Homo sapiens: one gene and its partners. The protein of the gene in region 2 purifies or fractionates together with the protein of the main gene of each other region. This does not show direct contact. Each region holds a gene or a part of one and is shown on either strand. Other genes may lie near its edges. The genes, in order: EVPL, SUSD3, CD207 and SERPINB4.

Region 1 (4,666 bases), on a different chromosome or scaffold from region 2:
CAAACTGAGACAGTGGGGAAATGGGCAAGGAGTAGGTGGGGAGACAGGGGCTAGTCCATGATTTTTTTTTTTTTTTTTTTTTTTTTTTGAGACAGAGTCTCACTCTGTCACCCAGGCTAGAGTGCAGTGACATAATCTCAGCTCACTGCAACCTCTGCCTCATGGGTTCAAGCAGTTCTCCTGCCTCAGTCTCCCGAGTAGCTGGGATTACAGGCATATGCCACCAAGCCCCCATTTTTTTTTTTTTTTTTGAGATGGAGTCTCGCTGTCTCAGGTCTACCCTGTTGCCCAGGGTAGAGTGCAGTGGCATGATCTCTGCTCACTGGAACGTCCGCCTCCCAGGTTCAAGTGATTCTCCTGCCTCAGCCTCCTGAGTAGCGGGAATTTTAGGTGTGCACCACCACACCCAGCTAATTTTTGTATTTTTAGTAGAGTCGGGGTTTCACCGTGTTCGTCAGGCTGGTCTCGAACTCCTGACCTCGGATCCACCCGCCTTGGCCCCCCTAAATGCTGGTATTACAGGTGTGAGCCACTGTGCCCGGCCTCCTTTAGTGATTTTAAACCATAATCTCTTTCCATGACCTGCCACTGCATCCCTGCCCCGCACTCAAGGAGGCACAGCCCTCCGAGGATGCCTGTTTCCCAGGCAGGCAAATTGAGCACGTCCGCCCAGGCAAGGACTTGAGCAACGCTGTCCTTGCACTCATCCCCCAGACACATGGGTCCTGCACTCTCAAATGTGAATGAATGGGACACCACATGGCACGGGGAGACAGAATTCGTTTATTGGGATCACTGGGTGGAGGTGGAGGAAGAACTGAGTGGCTGCTGTCCTGGTCTGGGGATGGATCAGGCACCAAGGTTAGGGGAGGGAGCCCATCACCATGTTAGTAAAATAATAAAACAGTGGTTGGACAGAGGGAAGACCCACTGCCTGGGATGAGGCTGCTCTGAGGCAAGAGGTGTACGTATCCTACCTGGCCCAACACACGCACTTCCCCACTGGCTCCTTGGCCCGTGTCAGCGAAGGGAGCGCGGGACGGTGGGGGAGGCGGAGCGGTAGCAGCGGTACCCCTCCAGTGCCGCTGGCAGGAGCAGCAGGCCGCTCAGGGGGTCTTTGCGGCAGCGGCCCATGGCCTCCTTGTAGCTCAGCCGTTCCTTGGAGATGGGGTCTGTCAAATCCTTCTCGTAGCTGGACTCGTCCTGCAGGAGCTGGGCCAGCTCTTCACTGATCATCCCGGAGAGGAGGGCCTGCTGGATGGGGATGCGGCCTGTCCTCTTGGGGTCGATGAGCCCCCCGGTCAGGTGCTGCACCTGCAGGTGTGGGAGCACGCTCTCCCGGGGCATCCAGCCCTTCTGGACGGCCTCGCCCACCGAGAGCCTCTTCTTGGTGACGGGGTCCTCGATGCCGGTGAAGGCCTTCTGGGCGTTAAGCAGCCTCTGTGTGGAGGTGTTCTCGATCAGGCCCCTCTCCATCGCCTTGTGCACAGAGTAGCGCTCACGGCTGAGCAGGTCCACGATGCCCCCTGTGGCCGCCTGGGCCTCCAGTAGCTTCTGCCCAGTGATGGGGTCCAGCATGTTCTTGGCCACGGCCGTCTTGATGCTGCACTTGTTGTCTGTGGTTGTGTCATAGATCCCGGCGATAGGGAAGCTGTCATCACCGAGCCCGAGAGAGAAGCTGGGAGAGAAGAAACTGGTGCTCTGGGGGGCCGGGGAGGCGAGCGGGGACTTGGAGATGATAGAGCCGATGGAGAGTGAGGAGCTTGGCTTGGTCTCCCCAGCTACAAGCAGCGCAAACTCGGAGATGGGCAGGTGGCCGTCCTTGTACAGATGGTACTCCTCCTTAGAGATGCGCCGGCAGCGGAGGGCGGCCTCGATGGAGTACTGCTTCCCGCTCTTGCGGTCCAGGAGCACAGACTCCTCCCCACAGGGCCCCGAGGTGGTGACCTCCTCCCAGTCACACTCGAGCTCCTGCAGCTGCAAGTACTGGCCCCTGTCGATGATGCCCCTCTTGTAGGCCTCGTATGGGGACATGTCCTTCCCCGTCTCGGGTTCCAGGATGGAGATCTTGGTGGAAAGGTTGGTCTCTCGCGTCTGGGTCTCCTGGCTGAGCTCCTCCCGGCTCACCTTGGCGTGGAGGTCCCGGAGCGTCCGCTCCTTCTCGTAGATCTGGTCCTTCTCGCGGAGGATGGCCGCCTCCAGCCGCGAGAGCTCCTGGCCCCGCTGGGCCGCCTTCTGTCGCTCGCTCTCCGTCTTCTGGCTGAGCAGCTTCGACTCCTCCTGCAGCTGCAGTGTCTGCTGCTGCTTCTGCCTCTCCAGAGCCCGCAGCTCCTGCTGCAGCCGCCCACACTCCTGGTCGGCCTGGTCCCGGGCCCTCTGCAGCTCGGACTCCTCCCGGGACCAGGTTCTCCCCAGCGTCTCGGCCCGGTCAATGCGCTCCCGCAGGCGCCGTGCCTCCTCCTCCCGGGCCTGCCGGGCCGTGCGCTCCCTGTTGAGCATCTCCCACACGCGGGCCCGCTCATCTTCCAGGACGCGGTCCTTCTGCACCCGGATCACTTCCTTGTAGATGGTCTTCTCCTGCGATTTGGCTTTCTGGAGGACGTCAATCTGGACCTGCAGGTTCTTGCACTCCCGATTCAGCTCGGTTACCTGGGTCTTCTCCTGGTCCAGGTCCCACCGCAGGGCTTCCGTGGACTTCTCCAGGTCCGGGTCCTTCTCCAGCTTGACCACTTCCTCCATGATGATCTTCTCCTGCACCGTGGGAGGCCGCTTCTCGAGCTCCTGGATCCTCAAGGTCAGCTGCCGCAGCTCCCTCTCCACGGCCAGCTTCTTGCTGCGGTCCTCCTGGAAGCTGAGCAGGCCCTCCTGCTCCTCCACGCCGGCCCGCAGCTGCTGCACCTCAAGCTCTAGCTGGCGCCGCCGGCCCACCTCCTCATCCAGGCTCCCGCTCAGCCGGCTGTGCTCCTCGCGCAGCTTCGGGTCCTTCTGGGTGACCACCACCTCCTGCACCACCACCTTCTCCTCGGGCTTCCTCCTCTCCAGCAGCAGGCGCTTGCTCTGCAGCTCGTACACCGCGTCCTCCGCGGCCCGCCTCTTCTGGGCCGCCTCCCGCACCTCCTGGCGGAGCCGCTCTGCTTCTTTCTCCAGCACCGGGTCCTTCTCGTGGCGCACCACCTCCTTGCTCACCGTCTTGGTCTCCACCTTGGCCCGCTCGCGCCTCCACTCGTCGCGCTCACCCTGCAGGCGGATGAGCTGCTCCTGGGAGCGCCCGTGGCTGTTGACGAGCTCGTTGAGCTGAGCCTTCAGGCGGTCGATCTCACGCAGCACCTCGGGGCTCCTCTCATGCCTCACCACCTCCTGGGTCACCTCCTTGTACTCCACCGTGGGCTTCTGGGCCCGCAGGACCTCCAGGTCGGGCAGCAGCTTCTCCACCTCCTTCTCCACACCGCTCCTCTTGCCCGCCATCTCCTGCAGCTTGGCCTTGAGCCGAGTGATCTCCTGCTCTGTCTCCGGATCCACCTGGAAGATCTCGTGGACGCGCTCCTGGAGCTGCACTTTGGGCCTCTGCTTCTCCACCACGCTGTACTTGCTGTGCAGGTCGCTCAGCTCCCTGGCCAGCGTCGCGTTCTTGGTCCTCTCCTCCTCGAGGAGGCTCCTCAGCCTGGAGGACTCCTGGAGGAGCCCTGGGTCCTGCTCCACCTTCTTCACCTCCTTCACGATGACCTTGGGCTCCACCGAGCTGATAGCCCGCTCCAGGTCTTCGATGCGAGCCTGTAGCTTGGCCACAGCCTCCTCCGCCTGCTTCCTCCGCGCAGCATCCTCCTCCATCTGCAGCCTCAGAGCCTGGGCTGCCTTGACCATTTCCAGATTCTTCTCCACCTTGACTACCTCTTTCACCACGACCTTCTCCTTCACGTCCACCTCCCTCTTCTCAAGGGCCAGTAGCTCCTTCTTCAGCCCTTCCAGCCGGGCCGAGATGACGGCATCCTCCCCGCGGAGCTGCTGGATCTGGATCCTGAGCTGGGCCGCCTGGCTGTCCAGGCCGGGGTCCCTCTCCACCTGGGTGACCTCCTTGGTCAGCAGATGAGGCTGCATGGTCTTCCTCTTGCTTTCCAGCTGCACGACCTTCTGGGCTGCCACTTCCAGGTCTGCCTGCAGGCCAGCCCGCCGCTTGCCCTCCTCCTCCACCTGGGCCTTCACCCTGGACAGGCTGCCCTCCAGCTGGGGGTCCCGGTAGAACTCTACCACTTCCTTCTCCTCCAGCCTCTCCAAGGGCCGCTGGGTCCTCAGCTGCAGCAGTTGGCTCCTCTGCGCCTCCAGCTCATGCTGCACCCGGGCCACCCGCTTCCTCTCCTCTTCCAGCTGGGCCTTCAGGGCCTCTGACTCTCTCCCTGCTTGGGCAGGGCTCTCGGAGCCCTGCTTTGCATCATGGGTCCTTCGGATGTCCTCACTGAGCTCCTTCTGCAGAGAGGAAGAAGGGTAGAGCACGGGGTGGGCGGTAGAGATAGGAGCTCCATGTTTTTCCTGAGATGAAAGACCCCTCCCTGTTTCCTGAGACTCCCCAGTGGGTCCTCAGAGGTGGAGCTGAAGACCTAAGATGCTTGGATATAGGATTTTGAGAAGACCCAGTCAATGCAATGATTTTAGGACCCAAGGCAGTGCGCAG
Region 2 (3,637 bases):
AAAAGGTGACTGTGATGGTCGTAAAGTGTGTCTGCCAATTCTCTTCTCACCAGTCAACACTCTTCCCACCTAGCAGTGGAGTCCAACTCTCTGCCCCTTGATTAGAAGGCAGCCTTGACTCCCAGTGAACAGACACAGCATGACTTCCGAGGCTGGGATCTGAAAGGCAAAATGGCCTCCACCTGGTGCTCACATTGCAACTCCACCTTGAACGCCGGCTGCCATGTTGTGAGGAAGCCCAGGCCACATGAGGCTGCCATGTGGGGGTGCTATGGCTGTGAAATAAAATCTTAAGCCCCACTGACTGACTGAATGGACCTGTCTTGGCCAAGGAGAACTGCCCATGACTAAGACAGGTCAGTCATGCCTCAGTACACTCCTTCCTTGCTAACCAATACCAGATTTTTTTCTTCAGAGTTAAACAGAAACTAGCTCTGAAAACAAACAAACAAACAAACAAAAAAAGGGAAGTCTCCTCTGCTGACTCTAACATCAACCAACCACTGTTACCTTTGTATTTTTCAGTATTAGAAATAATTATTTAGCTGGGCACGGTGGCTCACGCCTGTAATCCCTGCACTTTGGGAGGCCGAAGCAGGTGGATCACAAGGTCAGGAGATCGAGACATCCTGGCTAACACGGTGAAACCCCATCTCTACTAAAAATACAAAAAATTAGGTGGGCGTGGTGGTGGGCACCTGTAGTCCCAGCTACTCAGGAGGCTGAGGCAGGAGAATCGCTTGAACCTGGAAGCGGAGCTTGCAGTGAGCAGAGATTGCACCACTGCACTCCAACCTGGGCGACAGAGTGAGACTCTGTCTCAAAAAAAAAAGAAATAATTATTTAGTTTTACTTCATACCCCTCAACTGCACTTTTACAGACAACAGATGCAGAACCCTCCATGGGTCCTTGCTTGGAAGCAGTACATCCTGTGGAGGAAGATGCTGAGGTAGTTTTCTGTAGTTGCTGAAAAGAAGTTTATTGCTATTTTCTTATTTTATTATACAAAACTAGATTTGCTTAAAACATTTCCCAGTCTCTTTAAAGGAATGCTAGTTAGTGGGAGGCCACAGCTAGTAAATTACCCTCAGTAGTGGTTTCAAGTAGTCCATAACTATAAAAATCGTTACGGCCAGGATATGCCGGAACAGAACACTCCCCACTGGGGTCCTCAGCCTTGGATGTCAGCTCGGCCCCTCAAGGGGTCCCTACACCTGGAAGCTGATTCCACTCATCAGTCTCGAGCTGGGCGCATGTGGAGTTGATGTGGAGTTGTAGCTGACTGGCTGGTGGGGTCAGCCTGGCCTCCCAGTGTGGAGCATGGGCACCAGCCTCACTGCGTGGTCACCCTAGGGCATATGCTGCGGGCTGTTGTGGCATTCCTGTGGCCAGCCCAGAGGCAGGCAGGGGCTGTCTGGGGTTTGCCATGTGCACCATCACCTGGGCTTGGGGTGAGCTGGAGGAGCCACTGAGGCTTAGAGCTCTGGGGATCCCAGGGTCCTTGTCCACGCTGCGGGTCACACTGGCCAGCTTGCTGGTGCTCTCACCATGGTCTCTGTGGAGAGAGGAGGCATGAGTTGGCAAAAGAGTGTGGATAGGGTTTAATCCCCAACTCCATACCTTCCCAGGTACCCAGGCCCTCCAGTGGGCCTGGGGCAACTGCTGCCCTGAGCACTGGGGAGCCCGTTTCCTCCTGCTGGGAGCTGCCCTGCACCCTAAGGTGCACAGAGGTCACTCCATCTCCCTGCCGGGCCCTGTTGGCAAGTGGGTCCTTCATCTACACAACCAGGGCGTGGCCCAGGAGTCAGACACTTGCCCCCCTAAGGTGTGGGAAGGGACTTCCTGGGGCTCATTCAGAGTGTGCAGAAACCACCAGGAACCCAGCTGTCTGGCCAGGGCCTGGGATGTCCCAGGCAGAGAAGGGATGCTGGGGAGCAGGAGGTCAAGGGGAGGACATCTTCCCTCCTGCCAGGCCTGCCTCTTTGGTAGCCAGGAGCTGGATCACCCACCTGCTCCACCCTCAGTACTCTTGTGGCTCTCTACTCCCCCAGATACAAACCAAGCCATTCCCCAGGCTGACCAGACCCTGGCCCTGTCCCATCTCCAGCCTCCACACACACACTGGCCTCTGCTCCATGTGGGCTGCCTGGCGGCTCCCACCTCCAGCCCTTTGCATGTCCTCTCCTCCCCTCAGAGGCTGTCTCTCTCCCCTCCCAAAGCAGGCTCTCTTAGTCCTTTCACTTCCGGCATCACCTCTTCCAGGAAGCCTTCCTGGATCACGGCTCCCACCCACAACTAATTCTCAGAAAAACTCTAGTAAGTAGTAGGAATTAAGAAATGATCTGCTTATGCAATGAGTAAGTGAAAGCATCAATAACTGGTGGAGACGAAAGGCAGCTTCGGGGAGGCAGGAGCCAGACTGACTCCACCCAGCCTCACTTACTGGTTGTGTGGGAGTCTACACAAGTTTCTTAACCTGCCTAGTTCTTCACCTGGAAAACGGGATAAAAGTAGTACCCACCCCTAGGTGAAAAGAGTTAATATTTGGAAGAGTTCAGAACAGTGCCTGGCACATTGCAAGTGCTGAGAAGTACTTATGAAATAAAAACAAGGTCAAGAGGCAAACCTCACCTTGCTAAAGGCAATTTACCACCTATGGAGGCAGCCTGGGCCCTGCCTGAGGGGTGGGCAGCCCCAGCACAGGCATATCCCGAGGATCCTGCCTGGGAGCCCGGGGCCCAGGGCTGGGGACTCAGGGAACTCTGCCTCCATCGGCTTTGTAGCCCTGGGCAGGACCCGCCTTCTCTGAGTCCCCATGAAGCTGGGCTGAGTGCTCGAGGTCTCCATGTGTGAGAGAGCTCCGGGAAGGGGCTCTGCCCTAAGGGTCCCCCTCCCAATCCCCCTCAGCCTCACCACCACTTCCTGCCTCTTGAGCTGACTGTCAGAGTGGCCCCTAAGCCGGCCTCCTCCAGCCTCTCACGGCCCTGTCAGGGTGCCTCCCTCCCGCCCTGGCTCTCTCACTCCCCAGAGGGGGTGAACACAGCCCTGTACACAGATCTGTGGCCACTCTTGGACGGGACGCACACGTCCGACCACACACTGCACAAGTTCCCGCAGTGTAAGAGGCAGGGTCTGTGGCGCTGGGACCAGGCAGAAGTGTGGCCCCAAACAGCACCCCTGGGAGCCCCTCGGCATCATGCTCTGGCCAGCAAAGCCCCTGCGGCAGCGGCAGCAGCTGTGGCTGCCATCATCCTGGACACCATGTTGCCTTGAGAGGCAATTGTTCCTTCCCCCATTCCATGGGCACTTTCCCAGTTATGACACAGGATGATCTGGTCCCAGTGCTGTAATGGGGAGTGGGGATCACAGGTGGGGCAATGGAGGAGCTCTGAAAGTGGCTTTGGATATCTCACTACCCAAAAGGAAAGGCATTAGCCACCATGGCCCCAACAAAACTAAAATAAAAAGGAAAGGGGGTCAGGCACGGTGGCTCACGCCTGTAATCCCAGCACTTTGGGAGGCCGAGGTGGGCAGATCACGAGGTGAGGAGATCGAGACCATCCTGGCTAACACAGTGAAACCCTGTCTCTACTAAAAATACAAAAAATTAGCTGGGCATGGTGGCGGACACCTGTG
Region 3 (3,810 bases), on a different chromosome or scaffold from region 2:
TGTGACCCATTTGCACCCAGAACAACACACTGCTGGTTACAGTTATTTAAGGAAGCATCTTTTCCTGAGGACCTTAATGAAGACCTGTGCTCACTCCACCCTCCTCTCCTCTCTGTGGTGGCTGCTGCCTGGATTCCAGCTTCAGCCACTGGACTTGGGATTTGGAACTGATGCCTGTGGAACTGGGTCTCTGTGAAGAGTGGGGAACCTGCTGAGACTTGTTCTTGGGAATTGAGCTATAGACTAGAAGATTGTGCAGTAAACAAGAAGAAAGATCACCAAGATCGTGACATTGGAGACCTTGCTCTACTTTAATAAAAACTAGAGATAAGTACTGGTCACATTTTGTGGCATTTCCAGGACTGGAACTTCCCCAGTCCTTGTTATTTTTGACTCCCCAGATGTTTCCTGAGGATACCCTAGAACTTCATGTCCACCAGAGGAGACTGCCTTTCCCACATATTCACCTGGACAACCAGAAATGAAAAAGTGCACTTGGAGTGAGTCCTTGACCCAGGCAGCATTTTATTCTGAGGAAGCTGGAAGGTGAATTCATGAAGGCACTGAAGGCTGCTTCCCATGCACAAGACACAGGAAGATAGGAAATGCAGAAGGAGGAGGAGGTGCCGGAGAGGTGAGGACAGGGGCTGGATGGACGCTGGGTGGAAGGCAGGGCTCGGCACTCCAGTGTACTAAGGGAGTGGAAGGAGAAGGGAGGCTGGGTGCCAGCCGAGCTCTGAAGGAGATACAAGTCCGTGTCAGCCACTGACTTGAACCAGAGAAGAACGGGTTCAGGCTTTAGATGATGTGGATGAAGAAACCACTGGGGACATACCATGAGCAGGATTTCCAAGAACAGAGCTATTTGCACTGCAAACACAGCCAGCTGCTAGCTGCCAGCACAGCTAAGCAGAGACATGGAAATTCTAGGGGGTTTGGCCAAGAAAAGCCCTGGATGACAATATCAGGAGAATTGCTTGGTTGCTCTGGAGTAACTTTGATGTGATGAAGCTGAGGTTTCTCTGAAAGAGTGGAAAACCCCAGGGTGTTATGCCGGATTACGGGTCTTGATCCTCCTTAGCAGGGCAATTGGAACTTCTAAATCCTCTCTACCCACCCCTCCCACTTTAACCTGAATTCTCCTTTCCATTCCAGCTGCCTCCAAGACGTCAGAGAATTTCCAGCCAAGACAGACGGACTCCAGAATGCCACTGTGGGACAATTTTGAAGCAAGAAAAATTAACGTGCAAAGTCATCCTGGAGTCTGGGGAAGAAAGAGGCATTTCCTCATGTTTAACAAGCGTTGGAGCTCAAAGAGTGAGCTTGGGAGCCTGTCCTGTCACGGTTCTGATGGGACATAGGGTCGCTTACAAATGAAAAGAAACGTTTTGTCACATGGGGCATCATTCCAGGCCTGAAGTGAGGGAGCCTTTATATTGCCACAGTGTTCATTGTTCCCAGCATTGTTGGGCTCACCTGGAATCCAGAACCTACCAAGAGCGGGGAAAAAGATGGATTTACAAAGTGGAAAATCAAAAAGAACTTATTTCCAGTGAAGAAATGAGTTAACTCAACCCAAGCTTTTGTCCTAGGGAATGGCATAGCAAATGTCTGCACCCAAGCCTCAGAGGAAGGGGACTGGTGAGACTTCGACCTCTAAGCTTTCACATGCCCCAAGTCCAGGCCAAACCAACCCACCACTTTCAAGTCCCTACACAAACCCACACTGTGAAGACCTAGACTCATGACAAGATCCCTGAAGCTGGCCAGGTAGAAGGCCTTGTTGCCAAACCCCAGAGGGCGTGGAGGGCTCAGGTCCACAGCCAGTTGGTGACAGGGTTGTGCTCGATCTTGGTTGCAATGTTCCTGTCACTCTAAGACAGGGAAGAATCAGAAACCCTGTCTCATGGGGAACATCGCCCCCACTCCCTTCATGCCCTGGCCATGGCCGGGGAAAGTCAGGCTGGCACGGAGGGCTCCAGGGGCTTACCTCACACTTTGGACCTTGTTGAATGGCGTGTCATCCACCCAGGACCAGTCCCCTTCCATCCCTGCTTTAGTCAGGCCAATCCAGTAGATGAGTCCCCCCGCTGTTTTATACAGAAACTCCTGTAGGAAAGACAGGATAAGCAGAGGTGCGGCCACACTTGGAGCTTGATCATCTGTCTCTGGGTGTTCTTCACCTGCGCTCAGTGACAGCCCTGACCCACAGATGCGCTGCACAAACTGGCCTCTCAAGCTTCTTCCTGCCCTTGCCCAGAGCCCAGATTTCATCTTCCAGATTATGATGTGTCCCTGCTCTGCAGCTAACAAGCTCAGGACTCAAGCCTTTCTGCCACTCAGGAAGCAGGTGCTGAAGCACAGGAAGGCCTCAGCTGAACTCCAGAGCACGGACCGCAAGAGAATGGTTCATATGATAATACCTGAATTAAATGAGCCCTGAATCCACATACGGCACTGTGCTGAGTCGTCCATATGCATTCTCTCCTTTCCTCTGAGGCAGGTGCCATCACCATGCATGTTTCATCAAGTGAGGGCCAGTGAAGTTTGCCCAGTGAAGTTGGGTATTCCACCCAAGCTGCTAGGACTAGTTAGATGGCAAGGTTCAGGCTCTAGAACTACGCCAGAGCCCAGGCTCTGACCTGCTCTGCTATCCCACCTCCCAGATGAAAAGGGCCTGCCCAATTTCTGCCTCACCAGGCAGGAGACTTCTTGAGTCATGTGGAATCATTAAGGCTGTTCACAAATATTTCTTTTTTTCTGGGCACATGGAAAGTAGATCCTCTCTGCCCTGTTCCAGGAGTACTGGAATCCAGGATCCTCCCAATCCAGGAGTACTGCATAACTTACTTAACTTAATTAACATAACTTAAGCTAGTGAAATGTAAGCAAAAATGAGGTATGTTAAATCTGGGCAGAAGCTTTGCACAATATGTCAAGTTCCCCTTTCCTGCCCCAGCAATTGTGGAGACATATTAAGATGAAGACTCCTTGGGCCTGGGTCCTTGAGTAGCCACAGTGAGCACAGCCCCCTTGCCGGCCCTTATTCGACATGCTACTGAGAACCAATCCTTCTTCATTAGGTCATCAATATTTGGGGATTTTTGTTCACGCAGTATAATCTTGCCCATCCTCCCTGGCCCAGTGCTCATACGCCCCCTTCACAGAGCCCATAGGCACAGCACTCACCTGCTCACTCTCTGAGGTCACCGAGGTCAGGTGTGAATTCCTGGACACACAGAACTGCTCGGCACTATACCAGGTCTTTGGAATGAGAGAAAAGTAATAGAAGTTCCCCTTGAAGTACTTCCAGCCTTGAGAAACCACCTGTAGAATATCATCTAGAGAACAAGAGGTAAAAGTGAACGCTGGTATTCTTGATTTCTTGGGATGCTGGCTTGGTGGGGGCACTTGAATGAGGTCTCAGAGACAGCAGCAAATGGAGCTGTGCGCTGGTGTCCTTGGGTCCTTGTATAGGAGATTAGGGACACTCTTTCAAATCCTGAAAGTCAGACAGAGACTAATAGAGTCTCTGGGACTGGAGAGGTTATAATGCAAGAGGTTGGACAAAGAGTGTCTTCCCCATGATGAGGAAGCAACCCTCCATCGGCCATGACAAGTGGCTGAGCCCCTGGACTCTAGAAAGGAACTTGATGGGAAATGACTAGGTGTGGGCCAGGGTGGACATCCCCTAATGCTTTTACATTCTGCACTTTTGTGTGGGAGCTCTAGCTGGACCCTGGTCTCTTTTCTCCTAACAGCCCCTAAGTCCTCCCCAACCTCAAGCCCTCTCTCCTTAACTTCCTAGCC
Region 4 (5,202 bases), on a different chromosome or scaffold from region 2:
TATGGAACCCTAAGAAAAGCTACTTTCTGGAAAATAAAAATGATCAATTCCTGATCTTTACACATGCTGATATACTTCAAGGTCAATTCTAGATTCTTCTTTCTTCTAACTTTATCCTTTCTCCCTAGTATCTTATTTTTGCTTTTAGCTACAACTACCATATTTATCCCAATGACTCTAAAGTATTTATATTGAATATCACAAATTTAGAGCTTCAGATCATATTCTGTTTCTGAGATTTAGACTAATATCTTCAAGTGCCTGCCAGGCAAATCCATTTGAATATTAAAAGTACCTTAATTCATCAAGTACAAATTTAAACCCAAAGTCTTTTTTTCTCTCAGAAACAAGATATTCTTCCATCCATCCAGTCAGATAGGTCAGCAACTTAGATGTCTTTCTGTAACTATTATTTCCTAAATAATTCCCCCAGGCTCTTTCTTTCTCTCCATTTCCACTCCCAATACTCTAATGATTTCCTAATTTATATATGGTAACCACACTGTTCTTTCCTCGCATCCATTGATATCAGCGTAGCCAGAGATGTATTTTCTAGATGTGGATATGATAATTTTATGCCCCTCTTTGACAAACAACCATCAAAGCCTGTAATGAGTTTCTTATCCCTTTAGCATAAAATAGGAAGTTCCTATGTGGTTTACAAGGCTCCTCCTGTTCTGGGATATGCCTTCTACTCCAGGCTCATCATGAACTACTCTGTTTTTAATTTTCCTTTATATATGATTAATATATCTCTAAATTATCTTTCCTATGTGTAACTGGACACTTGCCCTTTCCAGAGAGAAAACAGGTAAAGCAAAAATGATTTTATGTCATTATTTTATTGATGATGTGTTTTATAGAATCACAAAATTTAGAAACATAAGAAGGATTTAGGTATCACCTAAATTCAAAGAAATGTGTGTTTCTAGGTTGCTAAATTTGAAGAGAAAGTATGATTTGGTTTGGTTCATTTAAAACAGGTCAGAAACAGAATTATATTTCAAATTTAGAAGACACGGTATTAAATGATTCATCTTATCTTGGACATTTTTCCTCAAGGGAAATTTTTCTGGAAGGAAAAGTACATTTATATGTGGGCTTATTAAGAGAAAGAGAGAAAGGCATGCTATTTTAATCATTAAATTCTTGATGATGACTATCATCATCAAGATGAGATAGAAAAGAAATATGAGCCAAGAGAATCTGTTGTTGCCAGCAATCAGTTTACCAGAACACCTCTAGGTGAACATTTTCTAAATGGAGTGACAGACTAATTGCATCTATGGGGATGAGAATCTGCCATAGAAGAGGATGCTGTTGGTCTTATTTTGCCTTATGAAGAATAGGAAAGGGTGATTACAACAGAACTCTTCATTAGTTGAAGGAGATGATAATTCGACTACTACTACAGCGGTGGCAGCTGCAGCTTCCACTCCCTCCTCAGTGACCTCCACAAAGGCCTTGTGTAGGACTTTAGATACTGAGAGACCGTGGCTCCAGGTCATGCCTGAGAGGTCTGCATCCCCATTGAAGATATTCACCATTCCCATGGTTCTCAACGTGTCCTTGAGGTCATAGCTCTCTTCCATTTTGAACCGAGGTAAGTGTAAATCGACACATGTCTCTCTCATATTCTGCAAACTTGTCCATTCCATCAATTTCTCAGCAGTGAGTTTCTCTTCAAGCTATACAAATGGAAAAAAGAAACTGATATGACTAACTGTCGATCTCTAATACACCTTAACAATGAATTGACTATGTGGAGATTCGTTATTTTGGCAATAAATGTGAAATACAGAAGGTTCACTTTAATAGACATTATTATTCTAATAGGTAAAATATGAGTCCTGAATATATAAATACATTGGGTTATATGTGTATATGTATATACATGTATGTAAAAACAGAATCATGTTTTTACGTATATGTATATGTGTACATATGTATGTATACAACTGTATGATACACATGTAAAATATGATTACATTATTTTGTACACAATGAACTGTATGTATCACTATTTCTTGTGCCAACAGCCTACTACATGTGTCAATTTTTAATAGGCTCATCATATTTTTCTGTATACATTATTTAGTACACATTGCAATTATTAAATTGTAATTCCCTAAATTCCTAAATTTGTATTCCCTTTTCTACTCGGCCTATTTGTAAACTTTCCTCACATTGGTATATATTTCTCCCAGTCAAGTTTAAATTGCTGCATAATAATATCATCAAATTGATATCCAATGCATGTAACTCTAATAAATTAATCATTAACTAAGCCATAGATGGAATTAAATCATAGATGGGAATTGAACAATGAGAACACTTGGACACAGGAAGGTAACATCACACTCTGAGGACTGTTGTGGGGTGGGGGGAGGGGGGAGGGATAGCATTAGGAGATATACCTAACGCTAAATGACGAGTTAATGGGTGCAGCACACCAGCATGGCACATGTATACATATGTAACTAACCTGCACATTGTGCACATGTACCCTAAAGCTTAAAGTATTATAATAATAATAATAAAAACAAACAAACAAACAAAAACTAAGCTTTCAGTTTGTGTCAGGCCCTATGCTCAAATATTTGTAATATGAAGGTGAGTCATCATTCCTCATTTAGAATTTTTCATCATTTTGAGGCAACTCGGTCATAAGCTTTTACCTTGTTTAAACTTGGTATCTTTGGAAAAATGTCCGGCAGTAGAAGGAAGAGTTGTAGATGCAAGTTCTTACCTTCTGCAGACCATCGATTTCATTTGGCAGCAGCACAATCATGCTTAGATCTTTGCCTTTGTATGGTATTTCCAGGACCTTGGCCTGTACATCCTCCAGCAAGGCAAAATTAAAGGAATTGTATTGCCTCATCATCTGTACAGATTTGTATGTATTCTGCAATAAATCAATGTGTCCAACAAATAACACGTGAAACACAAGACAAAAAAGATAATATTATTGAGATAGCAACACATCCTTCTTCTTCTAAGAAATAACCCAGGAATTCCATGAGTTAGAAACAATAGTTTTTCAGGTATTCCTAACTAAATAAAGTTATAAGAGTAAAACAACAAAATAACAGACATGAACAATTTTTATTTTTTACTTATCATGTTACATTCCATCAGAAATGTTTAACATTCCATGTATTAACATATTACACTATATAAATAAAATATAGACAATACCTTGTTTGGCCAAAATTTTTCCTCTTTAGTGTTTTCTTTTTTAAATTTATTCTCCCACTGCCCTTTGAAATAGATTGCGTTCACAAGAACCAGTGTCGTATCATTGCCAATAGTCCCATCAGGAAATAGGTTTTTAATTTTTTCTGCAAGGGAAAGAATAAAAGAGTCTTTTACACAAGCTACAAATGGCTTGTCTGGAAGATGCTTTGCAAATGTTCGTGACTGATCGTTAATTATTGACCCAAATCCCTGCTTGAGACTCACTGACTTTGATCTTTGAATTGTTAGACTCACTGACCAGTGGTTCACCAGATGCAGCTTTCTTCAAGGCTCCAGTCGTATAAAGTTACCCTTGATGGAGACATCACTTCTTGTGATAGAGAAGGAGTTCACGTTCTCTGTGTATGAATGTCTCCAATCATCTGATTTGGAATACTGATAAACTGATTTTGTCTACTCTTCCAACATGTGTCTTTCCTTTCTCCCTCCCTCCTCTTCCTACTTTTATTTTTTTTTAACTACGGGGTCCCCATTCAGAGGAAGGAGGCCCTGATTGCATTTTAGGATGAGTGACTTGAGCTCTGTAATATGAAACGCATGTCCTGTGCTGTCAGACACTACTTCCGGGGGTATCTTCCTATTCACTCTCATGTTGAGTTGCTGTAAGTTTGGCCTGTAATGAGAGGTGGGAGGTAAGAAAGATGTCTGTAGAATGGAGACTTTGTCAAGCTCTTTGCCCTTGATGGGGAAGAGAGCTGTGATAATCCCTGCAGAACACATTGGCTACAGATGTGATCCAGGCAGCTCCAGCTCAGAGACAAAAGGGTGATTTACCAGAGAGCTGCTTGTTTCCCAATTAGTAAAGGAGACGAGAGACGCTTTCTAATGTTTTCTATTAAATATTCATCATAAAAATTTGAGTCTGATTTAAAGTAAAGGATATGATCTCAAAATAGGCCTGAGCGGAGACAGGGGATCCACAAAGCTATTGTCATGCAGGGCCATAAGCAAATAATTCTCCAGATGTGTTTCCATCTAATTGGCTTCCTGTGATTTCCTCCTTGGCTCCCCTAGGCTCTCTTCATATTCATTTGGACAAATCCTTCATCTGGAGTGCCCTCTTCAGCCCTCCCTGCAAACCCATCTCAATCCCCACACCTGTTCCCCCATGCAGTGTCAAGCACAAGGCTCACTGGCATAGGTTTCTCAAAGGTGTTTCTATAATGGGTGGCTCTCCTACCATTCGTTTGACTTTCCACCCAGGAGTTAATCTTCTTTCGACTTTCTTCTGGAGCATTTGCAAAATCAGTAGATTCCACACTGGTCTGGTAAAATTTCTTGATGGCATCTAAATATTCCTTTGAGATATGAAGGAAGAAGTAGGAATTAGGAGTAATTTATGTAACTATATATTACCAAACTTACTTATTTGTAACAACAGTAAGCTGAATCCAGACCCTGAATAGATGCAGTATCTCCTGTCCATGGATATTTTTATACAGGTGTCATGTAGGCAATGCAAAAGGGGAATGTGGGCTGGCACAAGAAAGAGGTCACTGAAGGTCAATATCATCTTGGCAAAAGGCAGAAGCAGAAGAGGCTGTGGTTTGCAAACTGCAGAGCAGGCTTCCCTGAAGGAGATTCATTGCTTCTCAGACTTCTCTCCAGTAATTTTAACCATGATGTTTCTGATCTTTGTTTTTGTCTTTCATCCTGTGCATTCAATATTTCCTGGTACTTCCTCAACTATTCTCAGGAACTCACCCAAGCCTGCCCATTCCAATAATATCCCATTAGTCATACATTTCCCACCAAGATGTATCGTATGTGACTGAGTCAGTGCCAGTTTATCGATGGTATCTTATTACTTATTACTCTTACTCACTCTATTACACAACCTCCTCTTTTATCACAAGATTATCCCTAAATCCACACTTCAGTGATGTATCGTTGGGGTCTGGGACACTCCAGTGGGGGAGAGTTGTGGAAATGGAGCTAATGCAC

What was found.
Region 1: the proteins of SUSD3 (region 2) and EVPL purify together in Homo sapiens (affinity purification with mass spectrometry; 3 studies listed by BioGRID and IntAct, with this or other methods). This does not show direct contact.
Region 3: the proteins of SUSD3 (region 2) and CD207 purify together in Homo sapiens (affinity purification with mass spectrometry; 3 studies listed by BioGRID and IntAct, with this or other methods). This does not show direct contact.
Region 4: the proteins of SUSD3 (region 2) and SERPINB4 purify together in Homo sapiens (affinity purification with mass spectrometry; 3 studies listed by BioGRID and IntAct, with this or other methods). This does not show direct contact.

The regions. Positions count from the first base shown.
Region 1 is NC_000017.11:76,006,083-76,010,748, forward strand, and holds the end of EVPL (envoplakin), read right to left. Parts: intron 4,462-4,666; coding exon 1,021-4,461; 3' UTR 763-1,020; downstream 1-762. UniProt on the Homo sapiens protein: Component of the cornified envelope of keratinocytes. May link the cornified envelope to desmosomes and intermediate filaments.
Region 2 is NC_000009.12:93,082,456-93,086,092, reverse strand, and holds the end of SUSD3 (sushi domain-containing protein 3), read right to left. Parts: intron 1,557-3,637; coding exon 1,346-1,556; 3' UTR 960-1,345; downstream 1-959. UniProt on the Homo sapiens protein: May play a role in breast tumorigenesis by promoting estrogen-dependent cell proliferation, cell-cell interactions and migration.
Region 3 is NC_000002.12:70,829,711-70,833,520, forward strand, and holds the end of CD207 (C-type lectin domain family 4 member K), read right to left. Parts: intron 3,342-3,810; coding exon 3,190-3,341; intron 2,110-3,189; coding exon 1,991-2,109; intron 1,491-1,990; coding exon 1,340-1,490; 3' UTR 1,212-1,339; coding exon of another isoform or gene 1,099-1,211; 3' UTR 501-1,098; downstream 1-500. UniProt on the Homo sapiens protein: Calcium-dependent lectin displaying mannose-binding specificity. Induces the formation of Birbeck granules (BGs); is a potent regulator of membrane superimposition and zippering.
Region 4 is NC_000018.10:63,636,436-63,641,637, forward strand, and holds the end of SERPINB4 (serpin B4), read right to left. Parts: intron 4,557-5,202; coding exon 4,439-4,556; intron 3,342-4,438; coding exon 3,199-3,341; intron 2,906-3,198; coding exon 2,750-2,905; intron 1,689-2,749; coding exon 1,284-1,688; 3' UTR 824-1,283; downstream 1-823. UniProt on the Homo sapiens protein: May act as a protease inhibitor to modulate the host immune response against tumor cells.